Homo sapiens: one gene and its partners. The protein of the gene in region 2 purifies or fractionates together with the protein of the main gene of each other region. This does not show direct contact. Each region holds a gene or a part of one and is shown on either strand. Other genes may lie near its edges.

What was found. Proteins that work in one complex are often made in the same cells at the same time.
Region 1: the proteins of KIAA0408 (region 2) and PARN purify together in Homo sapiens (affinity purification with mass spectrometry; one large-scale study listed by BioGRID and IntAct). This does not show direct contact.
Region 3: the proteins of KIAA0408 (region 2) and CMSS1 purify together in Homo sapiens (affinity purification with mass spectrometry; one large-scale study listed by BioGRID and IntAct). This does not show direct contact.
Region 4: the proteins of KIAA0408 (region 2) and SUPT6H purify together in Homo sapiens (affinity purification with mass spectrometry; one large-scale study listed by BioGRID and IntAct). This does not show direct contact.

Annotation. Positions count from the first base shown.
Region 1 is NC_000016.10:14,581,761-14,585,260, reverse strand, and holds part of PARN (poly(A)-specific ribonuclease PARN), read left to right. Parts: intron 1-469; coding exon 470-512; intron 513-838; coding exon 839-914; intron 915-2,969; coding exon 2,970-3,080; intron 3,081-3,500. UniProt on the Homo sapiens protein: 3'-exoribonuclease that has a preference for poly(A) tails of mRNAs, thereby efficiently degrading poly(A) tails.
Region 2 is NC_000006.12:127,452,890-127,456,389, reverse strand, and holds part of KIAA0408 (uncharacterized protein KIAA0408), read left to right. Parts: intron 1-2,288; 5' UTR 2,289-2,408; coding exon 2,409-2,543; intron 2,544-3,500.
Region 3 is NC_000003.12:99,816,393-99,820,661, forward strand, and holds the start of CMSS1 (protein CMSS1), read left to right. Parts: upstream 1-1,469; 5' UTR 1,470-1,587; coding exon 1,588-1,651; exon of another isoform or gene 1,652-2,080; intron 2,081-2,527; exon of another isoform or gene 2,528-2,582; intron 2,583-4,269.
Region 4 is NC_000017.11:28,700,205-28,703,179, reverse strand, and holds the end of SUPT6H (transcription elongation factor SPT6), read right to left. Parts: coding exon 2,930-2,975; intron 2,835-2,929; coding exon 2,668-2,834; intron 2,240-2,667; coding exon 2,052-2,239; intron 1,742-2,051; coding exon 1,555-1,741; 3' UTR 501-1,554; downstream 1-500.

The DNA of each region.
Region 1 (3,500 bases), on a different chromosome or scaffold from region 2:
CTGATTGTAGATTTTGGCCCTGCAGAAGAATTTATAGTTTACAAACCTGAGGAGTAGGAGTAGATGGTAGCAGTTTGGGAATGGTAGACCGGCAGCAGTATTTGAACCACGTAAAACCATGTGAGAGTATTTGACTCACCCTTGAGATTGATGGAGCCCAGGCTCTCTGAGGATCCAGGTGAATCTAGAACTTGTACTCCAAGTGTGGACTCTCCTGCAGTTGCTCAATGAAGTCGCTGATGATGGGACTGAGTACCTACTCCAACGTAGCAGGGATGCTGGTGCTGGGTTCAAAATGGCCAATGTGTTTAATTACTTTGTCTGTGTTTAAGTATTTTCTGTATTAAACATTTTATGTTTTAATTATGTTTTTTATGTATGAAGTATTTTAAGTAGCTTACATATTTGAGTAAAAGACATTTTAAACATTGATATACATTTTGTTTACCTTGTTAAAAATTCTTTTTAGACTCTTGGATACTAAATTGATGGCCAGCACACAACCTTTTAAGGTATTATTCATTTGCTACTTTATAAAGCGACTGCATATTACTGAGTGAAATGAATGCCAGAACAATATAGCCTTCTGGCAAAAGGTTTGGAGGTATTTAATGCATCTGTAAAGATCTTTATTCATTTGGTTATACTTTGTATATTATAAAAATTAAACTAGCTGCTTCTCTTTCACATTGAAAAAAACGAAGACTTCTGTGTTTCTTTAAAGAACACAAGGAGACAGTACTAGATGCTGTCTTTTTTTTGGGGGGGTCAGTGAATCTCTTTAATATATTGTTCTGAGATGATGAAATCTCATAATTCTTTGCTTCGTGGTTTGCAGGATATCATTAACAACACATCCCTTGCGGAATTGGAAAAGCGGTTAAAAGAGACACCTTTCAACCCTCCTAAAGTTGGTAAGAATATTAAACCGGAAACCCTCCAAACTCTTTGTAATAATTATTGATGTATATTGTAGAAGAAAAGCAGAATGGCTCTGGAGACCGTATTGTTCATTTATAGATTTTGGCTGAATTCACTTGCACGTACCGTGTGTTGAATTATTGTTTTTTGAATAAAGATGGTCTTTTAATTCTACATATATTTTATGTTAATGGAGTTGGGTAGCCATTCATTGAGAATTTTAGCAATTAAAGCTTCAAGGCTTCTATTTTCTAATAATATGGAATTCTCCTAAAACTTGATGTGCCCTTTTATTCTTTCATACATTATTGAAGCAGAGACAAAGAGCTAGTGATTAATCACCAGGGGTAGAGTAAAAAATATATTTTCCATCTCAGAAAAGCCCGAGAACTGGATTTACAGGTGAGATTAAGGCAAGTCCCCACCCTGCCTCCTTTTCAGCTGGTTTAGAGAGTAGAAACAGCAGCACTGAGGAAAACCAGAAGTAGGGAGATGAGATGGAGGTGTTTTGCCACCTCGGGCCACCACCAAGGTATGTGGAGAGCCTACCAGGTGCTACTTCCTTGGTCCCTGTTAACCTGATTGTGCTGCTGATACGGTGATTAGCGAGCCATTAGTTGTAGCCTGAAAACTTCTAAAGACATGGATAATAGGACTAATGGTTTAGAAATTGATAATGCAAAGTATTAAAGCAGCCAAGATTACAGTTATTTGCCCCTTTCTGGGTAATAGTCCAAGAAAGGAATTAAGAAAAGTGGTGGTGGGGCCATTGGGGGAGAAAACGTGGACCTTTTCTATAACAATATAATGGAAATAATTGATTTTGGAAAGAATGTGTCTCAGTTGATGATGGAGTGGAAGATATTACTTAGGTGGCTACCATGTTAAAAGGCTTTTTTTTAAAGGCATCAAGTCTAATATTTAATATGGAGTTAAAGAATTCTTGCTTAAAGAGCATTGTATTGACATAAAAACAGTTACAGCCTTTTCATTGTTAATTTCCATTTATGCTTTTGATTCTGTGTTATAGTAACCTTCCTGACATTCATTTCCAGAATGGTTCTAGGATATAATTATTTATGAGTTATAGTTTTATGTTATTATTTCCATATAAAATAGTGGTATCTGGTAGAGAATTCAGTCTAAAGCAGGTCATTCCTCTTATAGTTTATCTGGTCACATCTGTATTTATCAATGTCACAAAAGAACCATATTGTATATAAAGCGGTCTTTGCTGTAAAGTGGTTCCATGATCCAAGGCCAGCATTATAGCAAGTTCGATTTATTTTTGGAGTTGGTTGTGCTGTCACCTTTCGATCTCTAAGCTTGGGAACATAGTAGAGGACAGTAGTGAGTTGGAGCTGTTGATAGTGAATTGCAGTCTTCTCTTTTTTTGGGGGAGGGTTGCCTCAGGTATTGATAGATAACAGTTTTTGAGCACTTACTATGTACCAAGCACTAGGTAAGAGTTTAACTTATATTATCTTATCTGATCCTAACAATAACCTTTTGAAGAAGGTTTGATTATCATCTCTGTTTTACAAAACTGGAACCTTAGGGATGAAGTGACTTGCCCAAGGTCATACCGCAAATAAGTGGTGGAGCAGAGATTCGAACTCAGTGTGACTCCAGAGCCCATGCTCTTAATCTTTACTCTGGATCATCTATTGTGGCCTGATGTGACCATCTTGTATAAGGGAAGAATATCCTTTTCATGGCCTTAGAAAGCAAGCAGAAGAGGAATCATTGTCCTAGAGTGAGTTATGGATGATCATAAATAGCACCCACCAGTGTGGGACGAGAAAGCCCACGGCTGAGTCCTTTGTAATCTAACTGAGGCATTTCTGTATCCTAGACCAAAGCCCTCCTTTTCAGTGACTCTGTTATCTTGTATTTTAAGGTCTTATATAGAGAGAATTAAGGAATAGATAGCTTTTTTCTGCCTATTTAGGGTATTTCTCTAGCATATGCTAATGCAATTTTGATTGGTAGGGCAATGTGCTTACTAGTCTTTGTTTTGAGGAAAACTTTTTCCTTTTTTTTCTTAGAAAGTGCCGAAGGTTTTCCAAGTTATGACACAGCCTCTGAACAACTCCACGAGGCAGGCTACGATGCCTACATCACAGGGCTGTGCTTCATCTCCATGGCCAATTACCTAGGTACGCATTACATGTCTTTCAGTCAAACACGCAGTGATCTAGGGTGGATCTTACCTGTCTCCTGGCTTAGGCTGCTGTAATAAATTACTGTCGAGTGTGGGGCTTAAACAACAGACATTTATTTCTCATGTTCAGGAGGCTGGAAAGTCCAAGACCCAGTTGCCAGCAGACCTAGTATCTGGTGAGAGCCCACTTCCTGGTTTGCAGATGGCTGCCTTCTCCTGTCCTTACGTGGTGGAGAGCAGAGAGAGCAGAAGCTGTGCCGCCTCTTTTTTAAGAGTCAGGGTCTCACTCTGTCACCCAGGCTGGAAGTACAGTGGTTCAATCATAGCTTACTGCAACGCTGAACTCCTGGGCTCAGCCTCCCAAGTAGCTGGGACTACTGGTGTGCATCACTGTGCCTGGCTAACTTTTTAATTT
Region 2 (3,500 bases):
GCATCTTTCAACAGTAGCATGGAAGCGATTCAAGAAGAGTTAGGAATAGAAGGAAAAATTGGAGCCATTTGCTACATAATTGTAGAAAAGACTTTATGGTGATTTCTGAACATTTCCAATGTTTAAAGACAGTTGGGATAAAACATGGATTTATCATAGCTCCTCTTTTCCAGGTAGCTTGAAATTAGTCTGCATCCTTTTTTAGTTTCTTTGGTTAAATCTGCATTTATCTCTTATTATCTCAAACCACACCATTCTTCCTAAGAAGTTCCAGTGGCAAATACTTTCTAGTCAGCAAGGTAGTTTCACCACACAGTTAATTACGTATAGTTTTAAAGCAGTCTGCTAGTTTCAAGACAGGCACTGTCTGCATTTCCTATGAAGAATTGTTAGACGAACCTAAAAGATTACTAGGTATTCAAGATCAAGATCAATGGAAATTAGATTAGCCAAAACAAACAAAAACCAAAACTCTGTATGTTCTTTACCATCTTTATTTTATTTGTTCTTCACTGACATTTATTATGGCAAGTACTTGTGGTTACTGGTTTATATGTGGGAAAGATAGCAAAGAAAGGGGTGACAGAGGAGGTGGAGAAATGAGGTCAGAAATTGAGCATGGCCAAATGGATAAAATGAGATATGATAGCACCTTTAATAGCCAGATATGAAATTATGTATTTTTCGTGACTGAATTAATCATAATAGTGCTAGTGCCAAAGACATAGGAAAAAATTATCAAAATATCTTTAGTAAATAGTTTGAGAGTAAAGTAACAATATAGATCCCAAAATTATTAGGGTGTTTTGAAGGTAGAACCCTGCATATATAGCTAACATTTTTCATTTCTTATTCTATTCTAATTCATTGATCGTGACTCAAAAAATACAGATTCAAAACTGTTTACTAGTCAGATATGTATGTTCACAACAGTCTGACAAAAATAAAATTAGTGTTCGATATTTAGCTGATATTTAGGATTTGAAATATGCAGTTATCTTCTGTGAATACAAAATTGGCACTTGCTGCTTGGGTATGTGGCCTTAATTCGGCAGTGCCAGCACCCACAAAGCTATTGACTGTTGGGATCTTTGTCCGTAATTAGCATTAGCTGCCACCAGTAAGTTATAGCATTTTGATAATGGCTTAGTGACTGAAGAGTTAGACATCTTATAGGCATAATTATCTTAAACAGAGATTCAAACATTTTAAACATGCTTTTCTACCCCCTAAAAAGGCACATGACTTATTTAATACAAAATTATTTTTAATTGAAGTCACAATGAAATTTTGTAAAGCAAAAAATAGAAAACTTTCTTAAATTTCTCAAACTACTTTGCATTCAGTATGCCATTTAATCTTTTTAACAGTTCTATGACTATCCCCATTTTAATGCAAAAAACTAAATCCCAGAAATTTTAGACTTATACCAGTTACATAGCTGGTATTTTAAATTCTGACTTCAAACCTTAAGTACACGTCCCTGAAGGCTAGAAAGTTAATTATTTCAGTCACTACTTAATGTAATAGAGGATTCCCTGAAAACTGAGCAAAATGTTTTCTTCAGTTCCCTGTATTCAATATCCTAAGCAGTTTATGGTATATAGCCTATTCAAAGGAAAAGAGAGCATGGATAAATTTTAACGTATATTTCACAGGATAGTTTTGATGCTTCTAGATTTTCCTTGATGAAGTGACATAATGAATATATTTTTTATAATTTAGATTAGTTTCTGGATGATACATCAGTCCTAAGTTGACTACCAACTTTGGGGTCTTCATAAGTAACACAGTAATGACATTTGGCACAGGCTTGATCTCTGAATATAGAATTAAGACTGCAAACCAGCTCTGTTTCAGGAATTTAAGTCATAAGAATATATAATCAGGTTGCATCAGAACAGAAAGAATAATTTTATTGCAGCAGAATCTGTCACAGTGTGTAGATGTGAGCATACATTTGAATTGTATACTTACACTCTTATTCATGAAAAAATCTATTTTTAGAGTAAGTGGTTAAAGGGATGATTACATCTCACATGCGCATTTAATCATCTTGTCCACTATAATTTTGCTGTCTGGTCTCAGAAAGGGAAAAAAACTTTGGACAATACTTATTACTTTATTGACTGTGTTAGTTTCTTCTTCTTAAGTAGACTGTTGTCATCTCTTTTCTTTTGAGTCCAATTTTCCTATAGTTTGTTTATGTCAATGGCTCGACAAAATGATAAAATATATTTCCAGAAAGCACATGGATTTGGAACTCTCTCTTGTTATGTTTATATTAGGCTTTATTTTAAAGGCAAGTGAGACTGCTTCAAATAAAACAACTTCAAGCTTCCAAGAAACAGTTAAGAGGAGGCAGAGAAGAGCAGAAACACTTCTTTGCTGACACTTACACTGTTGCCATGGACCTACATAAGCAGTGGGAGAACACAGAGACTAACTGGCATAAGGAAAAGATGGAATTACTGGACCAGTTTGACAATGAAAGAAAGGAATGGGAAAGTCAATGGAAGATTATGCAGAAGAAAATAGAAGAGGTACACTTTAATTTGTTTTGGATATACTGTAATGTTTAAGTGCAGGATGAAAATTCTGTGGGCTGTTTTGTATTGGAAACTGTTTTTGATTTCCTTATTCGACCTAAGAGGTACATTTCTCAGTGACATTTACTAGAACAAAAATAGCATAATCTTATCCAATGGTATTGTAAGGATTATTTTATATCATTGCATGAAAATTAAGCATTTGAAATGTCACTCTATAATGTTTCAACTTATTATTTTCTGGCTAGAGAGCTTTTTTATCAAAAGTGAGGTATGTATTTTGCATGAATTTTCAAATACCAGGTCCAGGAGTAAAATGCAAGAAAGATATACTTGGTGGGACATAGATTAGCAAAATTATAGTTGGGCATTAGAACATAGATCTTTCCTAAGAAGATTTATGAGTAATGTCTATTAAAGGAAATTACATGTTAGATAATGCAGTATAATCAAAAGGAGTATCATATATCAAACAGAAAATGGCAGTAGACATGAGATTTATTCTATCAAGGTGTGCACATTTAGTGGCATATTTATTGGAAAAGGAGTTATGAAAAATGACATATCACGACTCTGACACAGTCATTTTGTTCCCGTTAACCCTCCCTCAGTCCGTTGACCCTGAAATATTTCCTTCAAGCATTTGCATTGATGTATATTCAAGCTTTTGCACCAATTGGAAATAATTTATGCTTATCTTGCTTTCTTTTGGTAACATCCTTAGTATTGACTTTATATGGTTTTATGCACATTACCAAAGTTGTTATTTTAAGACTTCTTGGCCTTTTTTGCAGGCAAAGTAAGTGCTTTATGTGTTTATAGTACAGTCATGTTTCTTATTAACAGCCATGTAATTGACTGTGAATAAAATATGAATTGGCATAGTAGGAAGAAAGCTGAAGAAAAGTAACTATTAAGCCCTTCCTCTAAAATAGAGCTGAGAAGGCAGGC
Region 3 (4,269 bases), on a different chromosome or scaffold from region 2:
CACCATGCCCGGCTAATTTTTGTATTTTTAGTAGAGATGGGTTTCGCCATTTTGGCCAGGCTGGTCTGGAATTCTTGACCTCAGGTGATTCACCCACCTCGGCCTCCCAAAGCGTTGGGATTACAGGCTTGAGCCACCGCGCCCGGCCCATACTTCTTAATTTTGTGATTTATTGCCTGAAAAACGGTCTCGCTGTGGTGTTTTTTTTGTATTTCCCAGATTAATAATCAGACTGAATTCTTTTCATGTTTATTAGCCATAGCAACTCCTCTTCCACACTGGCATTTCTTATCTTTTTCAAAAATCTATTAATCACGAAAATCTCGTCATCTACATTTCTTCACAAAAGCCATATTACTTTTGATCTTTATAGATTATTTTACATTTGCCATATTTATACATAATATCTTCCCTTTTGGGGCATTTAGAGTGTGCGGACAAAGTCTAGGCAGTAATGCATTTATAAAACATCTATGAGTTGGGTGCACACGGGGTAATTTTCCACATATGGCTAATCCTAGCCTCATCAGATTAAGTTTCCCTGTCTTGTCATTTCCGAGGATGTATCCTATTAGAAGTCTAGCCCTTTATTCCTACAAATTGAATTTCCACTACTGTAGGCTAACATCTGAATGGACTCATCTTACTATTCCATGCATAGTACCAGGCACGTTGCGTGCTTTTACTACATTTTGTATAATTTTTACGTCTGTGTTTGATGTCCTGAAAAATACCGTCCACAATTACTTCACAGCTAGCCCCAGCACTTGGCGCCCAGCGGGTTTTCCTAGTCCCTCCCTGCCAAATCACGTTGGGACTGAGACAAGAGGCACTGCGGGTCTCTTACCTATAGTTACGAAGCAATGGACTCCCTTATTACTTCGTTTCCCAAATAGGGGGTGGGACACACAACCGAGGGAGTATGAGGAAAACAACTTGCGGGTCTTCGAGCCACTTGCGTCTTTCTGTGGGCGAGCCTTTCCAGGCCAATTACATTTTCTTTACTCATATTGCATAAATAGCAGAACTACATTTACCACAAAGGCCCGACATTCATGGTCATGGATCCTTGCGCATGTTTTCTAAGAGCAAACTGTACAAACACATAAACTCTGAAACACTGACGCACAAGCGAAAACACACGCACATGTTTGGGTCTTCTCCCGCTGCGCAAGTTCTTTGAAACTGAGCGGAGAAAAATCGTCTTCACATGGTGTCTCACACTTTCGACACAATCTTATCGGGAAACGTAACACGTAAACAAAATTTTTTAAAATGCATTATCAAAAACGATGACAATCCCTTTCGTCTTATGTTCCTTTTTGTCTTTAAGCTTTGGGGGGATTTATGTTGCGTTTCCAAACTGCTTCTGCCTGTCGGCGCCTGTGTGGAAACTGCGACGAGTCTGGGAGCGGCTGCCGGAGAGGCGGGGCAGAGGTGTGACGTCATCGCCGCGGGGCGGAGGCGACAGTGTCTAGCGGGAGCTCCGCGTGTAGCTACGCCGGCCGCCTGGCTTTGAGACAACGTGATTCTCCGCAGCTGGTCGCCTACCCGTGATGTTCTGCCCACGTCGAGACCTGAGCTGAAATGGCAGACGATCTCGGAGACGAGTGGTGGGAGAACCAGCCGACTGGAGCAGGCAGCAGCCCAGGTACCCACTCTGTGCCCGCGCTCCTACGGGGCCTCTCCCGGAGCCCTTCCGTGCGCCTCAGCCCTGGTCGCTTCTGGCGATCGCGGTGTTTGCCCAGCAGGGGTGTGCACCGCCTTGGGAGCGCGCAAGCATCTCGGGGAAAATGGTGCAAGAGATTCTTTAACACGTGAAACAGACAGCTGTGACATTAACTCAGATCTGTCTGCCAGCCAGGAAGGATCCTTTCCACAAGCTTTCTCTTTTCCTTATTTCTTGAGAATGGATAAGACAGTTTTTGTGAAGAGAGGCAACTTTGTATGATGGTTAAGGGTGACCCATGAACTGCTTTCAATTCAGACTGAGGTCAGAAGCAGGGGTTGCTGCTTCAGACTCCCTCCATTCAAATCACGACTCCAGTATTCTGATACTGTTTAGCCTCCTTTTCCTCATCTGTAAAATAATGATAACAATAATGTCCATTTCGTAAAGTTGTGAAGATTAAGTGAAGTTAGTACAGTAATGCACTTTAGCATAGTGCTTGACATATAATGTGTGGTAAATATAAGTTACTGTATTTCTTGTGGTCATCATCATTATCATGGAATTTGGAATAGTAGAACTGGAAGGAGGCTTAAATAGAGATCATCCTTTGAACTCACTTATTTTACAGATGAGAAACATAACCTAAAGATGTCAAGTAACTTGACAAGTTCACAAAGCTAGCTCCTTTCAGAAACAATACTAGAATTCAGTTAACACAATTTGAATAGTTTCTACTATGCTCTGCTGTGTTTACCAACTCCTGATGCAGTGGGCATTTCATCCCCAAGTAGAGTAGCGTTAAGTGACCCCCCATGTCAGGCTAGCCTTGAACTTTTTAAGTTCCATCACACCTACCATGCAATTATTGGTTGGTTGGTTTTTATCACTCCTCAAGGTCTGCCTCTTTTCTCTACAAGAGAAGACAGGGCCAAAGTCAGATTCATACTTCTGTCATCCACAGGGCCCTGCACATGTTAGACACTTGATACCTATTTGCTGCAAACAATCTTGAAATACTAGTTGTGAAATATCCATTAAAAATAACCAACTTCATTTGTTGCATTGTTTCCGGAAGGTCAAGCCTTCAGGTACAAACTAAGCAGATGTCATTTTTAGAAAGGTAGCCAATACAACATTTCCTTGATTAAACTTCCTGACTCTTTTGCAGCCCTGTGGTGTTCCACATTTACTTTAATAACTACCCCTCCCAACTCAGGTGTTAAAAAGCTCTATTTTATGATATGATTGAAGATGAACAGAGGCCATTTAAGAAATAGTTGAATTCTGTTTGAGTGGTGAAGGGGATCCCAATTCTTGGTTCTAGTCCTCACTAGCTGTGTGACTTTCAAGTTATTCATCCGTTGGAAGAAAGGCAGTCAACATGTATTGAGTATCTATTATGTGACAAATGTCTTCATAAATATGAATTGATTTAACTTTCATAACATCCCGAAAAGGTAAGTATTCTCTTCATTTGTATAGGTGAAGAAACAGAAAAAAGTTAAGTCGTGTTCTTAGGAACACACATTGAAGAAGAGGTCTGGGAAGAGTTTAGTCAAGTGTGATTGATTTTGAAAGTCACGCTTTTCCCGCTACTACTTTGTGACTTCTCTGGGCCTTTGTATCATAATCTGTAAAGAGCCCTTAAAGATCATCTTTTTTAGGGTTTTACCAACCAACAGTTTTTTTTTTCTTTTTTTTTTTTTTTGACACGGAGTCTCCCTCTGTCGCCCAGGCTGGAGTGCAGTGGCACGATCTCGGCTCACTGCAACCTCTGCCTCCTGGGTTCAAGCGATTCTCCTGCCTCAGCCTCCCAAGTAACTGGGATTACAGGTGCCCGCCACCACACCCAGCTAATTTTTGTATTTTTAGTAGAGACGGGGTTTCACCATGTTGGCCAGGCTGGTCTTGATCTCTTGACCTCGTGATCTGCCCACCTCGGCCTCCCAAAGTGCTGGGATTACAGGCGTGAGCCACCGTGCCTGGCCCCCAACAGTTTTAAACACTGAATCTAGTAAAACTTTAAATCGCTACAGCCTCCTTCATCTAAGTTGCCAGAATTCTCATGAAGACAGTGTGTTGGAGTGCCTAAGATTGCTCTACTTCTTACATTCCTTCTAGCCATAAGACTAACCCTTTTTTTTTTTTTGAGACGAAGTCTCACTCTTGTCCCCCAGTCTGGAGTACAGTGGTGCGATCTCAGTTCACTGCAACCTCCACCTCCTGGGTTCAAGCGATTCTCCTGCCTCAGCCTCCCGAGTAGTTGGGATTACAGGAGCCTGCCACCACCCCCAGCTAATTTTTGTATTTTTAGTAGAGATGGGGTTTCACCATGTTGGCCAGGCTGGTCTTGAGCTCCTGACCTGAAGTGATCTGCTCGCCTTGGCCTCCCAAAGTGCTGGGATTACAGGTGTGAATCACCGCACCCGGCCAAGACTAAGCTTTGAAAATTGCTGGCATTAAATTTATCAGAGGCCTTTGCTTTGTTCGCTGCTCTTAAGCAAAGTAAGTATATGCCTTTATTTGAAATATCCTTGATTATTCACTGGCAATTTGCCTAATTGTAATCTGTACAGCGTTTCTAATTCAAAAGAAAT
Region 4 (2,975 bases), on a different chromosome or scaffold from region 2:
TGGCCTTTCCCTCCTCTAAGTGGCTCTGCAGAAGGTGCTCGTGGTACTACCAGAGACTGACCTTCCCAGCTGGTGGTCTAGCTCCTCCCTTGTAGCCCTTTTGTGCTGAAGGGAGCTGACTTGAGTTCCTGGCAGAGCTGGCCCCTTCCCCCAGATCTTGATGAAGAAAAACAAGGGGAGGGAGTGTGCCACGTCTGGGCAGCAGTGGCCTTTTCTGACTTCTCTGCTGAGCCCCAAGCAAAGGAAAGGGAGCCAGAGGCCCCACTCTCCCAGCATTGACTCACAGAGCTGTGAGACGAAGCCCTTGTGCAGAAACAGGGATGGCAGGAGTTCAGAACAAAAAATGCAGTGGGGCAGGGACAAAGGGCCAGGGCCAGTGTGTTGGAGGGGAGCAGGTGAGCAGGGCCCCATCCTGGGGCAGGAACACCTTACTGCTGAGAGCTTGCAAGAGACCAAGGCCCAGCTGGGAAAAGGGAAGAGATGAACGGCAGAGGCTCAAGTTGAGAAATCCAGATTTACTTGTGGCCTTTCTCCAGGGTGCCAGAGAAGACCAGCAGGCATGGGCGGATGGGGCAGCTGTGCTGTGGGTGAGTGAGTGGGTGTAATAATACCGGGTAACATTTGCGACGTACCAGGCGTTGGGCCAAGGAGCTTGCACACGCTGCCTTGGTCCTCACAGCAGCTGATGAGGCAGGTATCACTATCTCCATGTTACAGGTAAGAAAGCCAGCTGAAAGGCAGCAGGAACTGGCACAGGGTCACCCGGCTGGGAAGTAGAGCAGGGATGTGCCCCAGGCAGTCTGATGTAGAAGCTGCCTCTAGTCTATGAATCTTTGCCTCTGATGGATCAGAAGAGGGAGTCAGGGGAGTCCTTGGAGCTCCAAACACTGCTTTGAAAGCCACCCCTCAAAGAGCTGGAGAGTTGGAGAGAGAGGCTTTGGCAAGAGCTCAATAGAAACACTGTTTATTCAAATGACAGGCAGGAAGCGGTGGCAGCAGCAGGGGGGAAAGGGCAGCCAGGCAGGGGCTGGGCAGTGCTTCCCTGTGTCCCCTGCAATCCTGCTTGGACAGCCACCCGGCTGTTGGCATCAGGGTCAGAAATACTTTCCCTCCTCTCCCTCCTGCCCCAAACTGAATAAATAGCATCCCTCTCCCCACGAGAGCTAGGGGAGACTCATGTGCTGAGTTTGGTGCCCCAGTCACAGCCCAGAGTCCGGTGAGGGCAGAAGTTCAAAATGGCTTGTAGGGAGTAGAATACAAAACTGTTCTACTCATTCTCACCTTCCTCTTCCTCCTCCCTGCCACACTCCCCTCCCAGCCTGGTCCCAGGACAGGTGGTCGGTGAGGGTCTGGAGCGGGAGAATTGTTGCCTAGCATACACTGAGCTCAAGTTCACAAGGCCATCCAGCCTGTCACCCATCCGGGTTGACCACCAAAGAGAACGTCTCACTTCACGCCACTTTATGGACATAAAAGGAGGGGCAGGGAGGGAGGCAGTGGGCAGCCAGGCCTTTCCCAGCCTCAGAGGTAACCAGAGTCCGAGGAGCAGGCCCCCTACCGATCCATCTCGTCCAGGAGTGGGGTGGCATCGCCAGCAATGGACATGGGGGTGCTTTCGATCATGGGGCTGGGGGAGGGCCGAGGTGTCAGCCGCTGCTTCTGTTTCCGCCGTTCTGCCTCCTTTTCCTGCAGCCACTGCTCCGCCATTTTTCCCCAGTCGATGGCTGCATGGCTGTTGGACCTGGGAGGGGAAGAAAAGTTGAGATTGGGACTTTGCTAGAAGGAAGTCTTCCCACCAATCACTGTACCCTTGCAGAAAGGAACCTCATACCTATGGGCAGCAGCCCCTCTACTGGGATAAGGCAGATACAGCAGCAGCTGGCTGCCATACTGCCCTCTTCCGTCTTCACCCAGAAACTAGTGTTCCTGGCATATCATGTGGTCAGGGCCCTCAGAGGATCCAGAGCACCTGCCTCTGCTAAGCCTTTCGGCCTCTTGACAACACCTGCCCCTACCACTGACCTGCACTGTGCCACCATCCAGATACTTACTTTGGCTGCTGCTGCCGTTGCCGGGAGCTGGAAGAGGGCTGGGGCTGGGCCTGGGCCGACTGTGGGGTGGTGCTGGCCTGGAGCTGGTGGTACTGAGGGGTGGTGATGGGCTGGCTTGGGGTCGTGTAGGAGTAGCTAGGGGTCATTAGTGGTGTGGCCACTGGCTGCTGGGCTGGCGTTGGGAATACCTGGAGAGGCATGAACAGTTAAATAGGGATGGGTGTGGGGCTTGTTTGGCCTTGCTGTGAATTCTGGGTAAGCGCAAGGGTGGGCTCAGCAAAGCTTTCCAGATGATCTTCCACTGAGTATGTGCTTCTGACCAGCAGTGGGAAGCCTGCAGGTCAGCACCGAGCACACAGTGGTGCCCACTGGTCCTGACCATGTCAACTTTCTGGTGGCTTGCGGGTTCCAAAGATCCCAAAGGCCCGTGGAAAGGTTATGCCCTCTCTTACCCTCTTCCCCTTCAAATGGGCCTAAGGACAAGAAATATCTGTTGGAGACAGTTACCAAGGCCGTGGCAGCCCCATCTGTGCATGTGAAGCCCCTTGTGGGCAATGCGAGAGGGCAGTCTATGGGCCCCACCCTGCACAGGGAGCTTCCTCCCCAAGCCACATACGTGGTAAGCACTGCTGCCGCCTCCACTGCCGCCATAGCCGTACTGGCTGGAGGCCCACTGGGCTGGGGTGGCATTAGGGTTCTGTCCTTGGCCTGTCACCGCAGCAATGGCACTGAACATCTGTGAAGTCATGTTCTGAGGCAGGGCATTCACAGCCCGTGTCAGATCTGTAAGCACACAGAGGTGGGGAGGGGCATGTTAGAGGTGAAAGTCCCTTTAGCTCCATCCTTCCCACCTCCAGTCCCAGGCTCAAGCTCCTCACCTGCAAGGTTGATGTTGGCTGGGGTAGCATTGATAGAGGCAGGTGT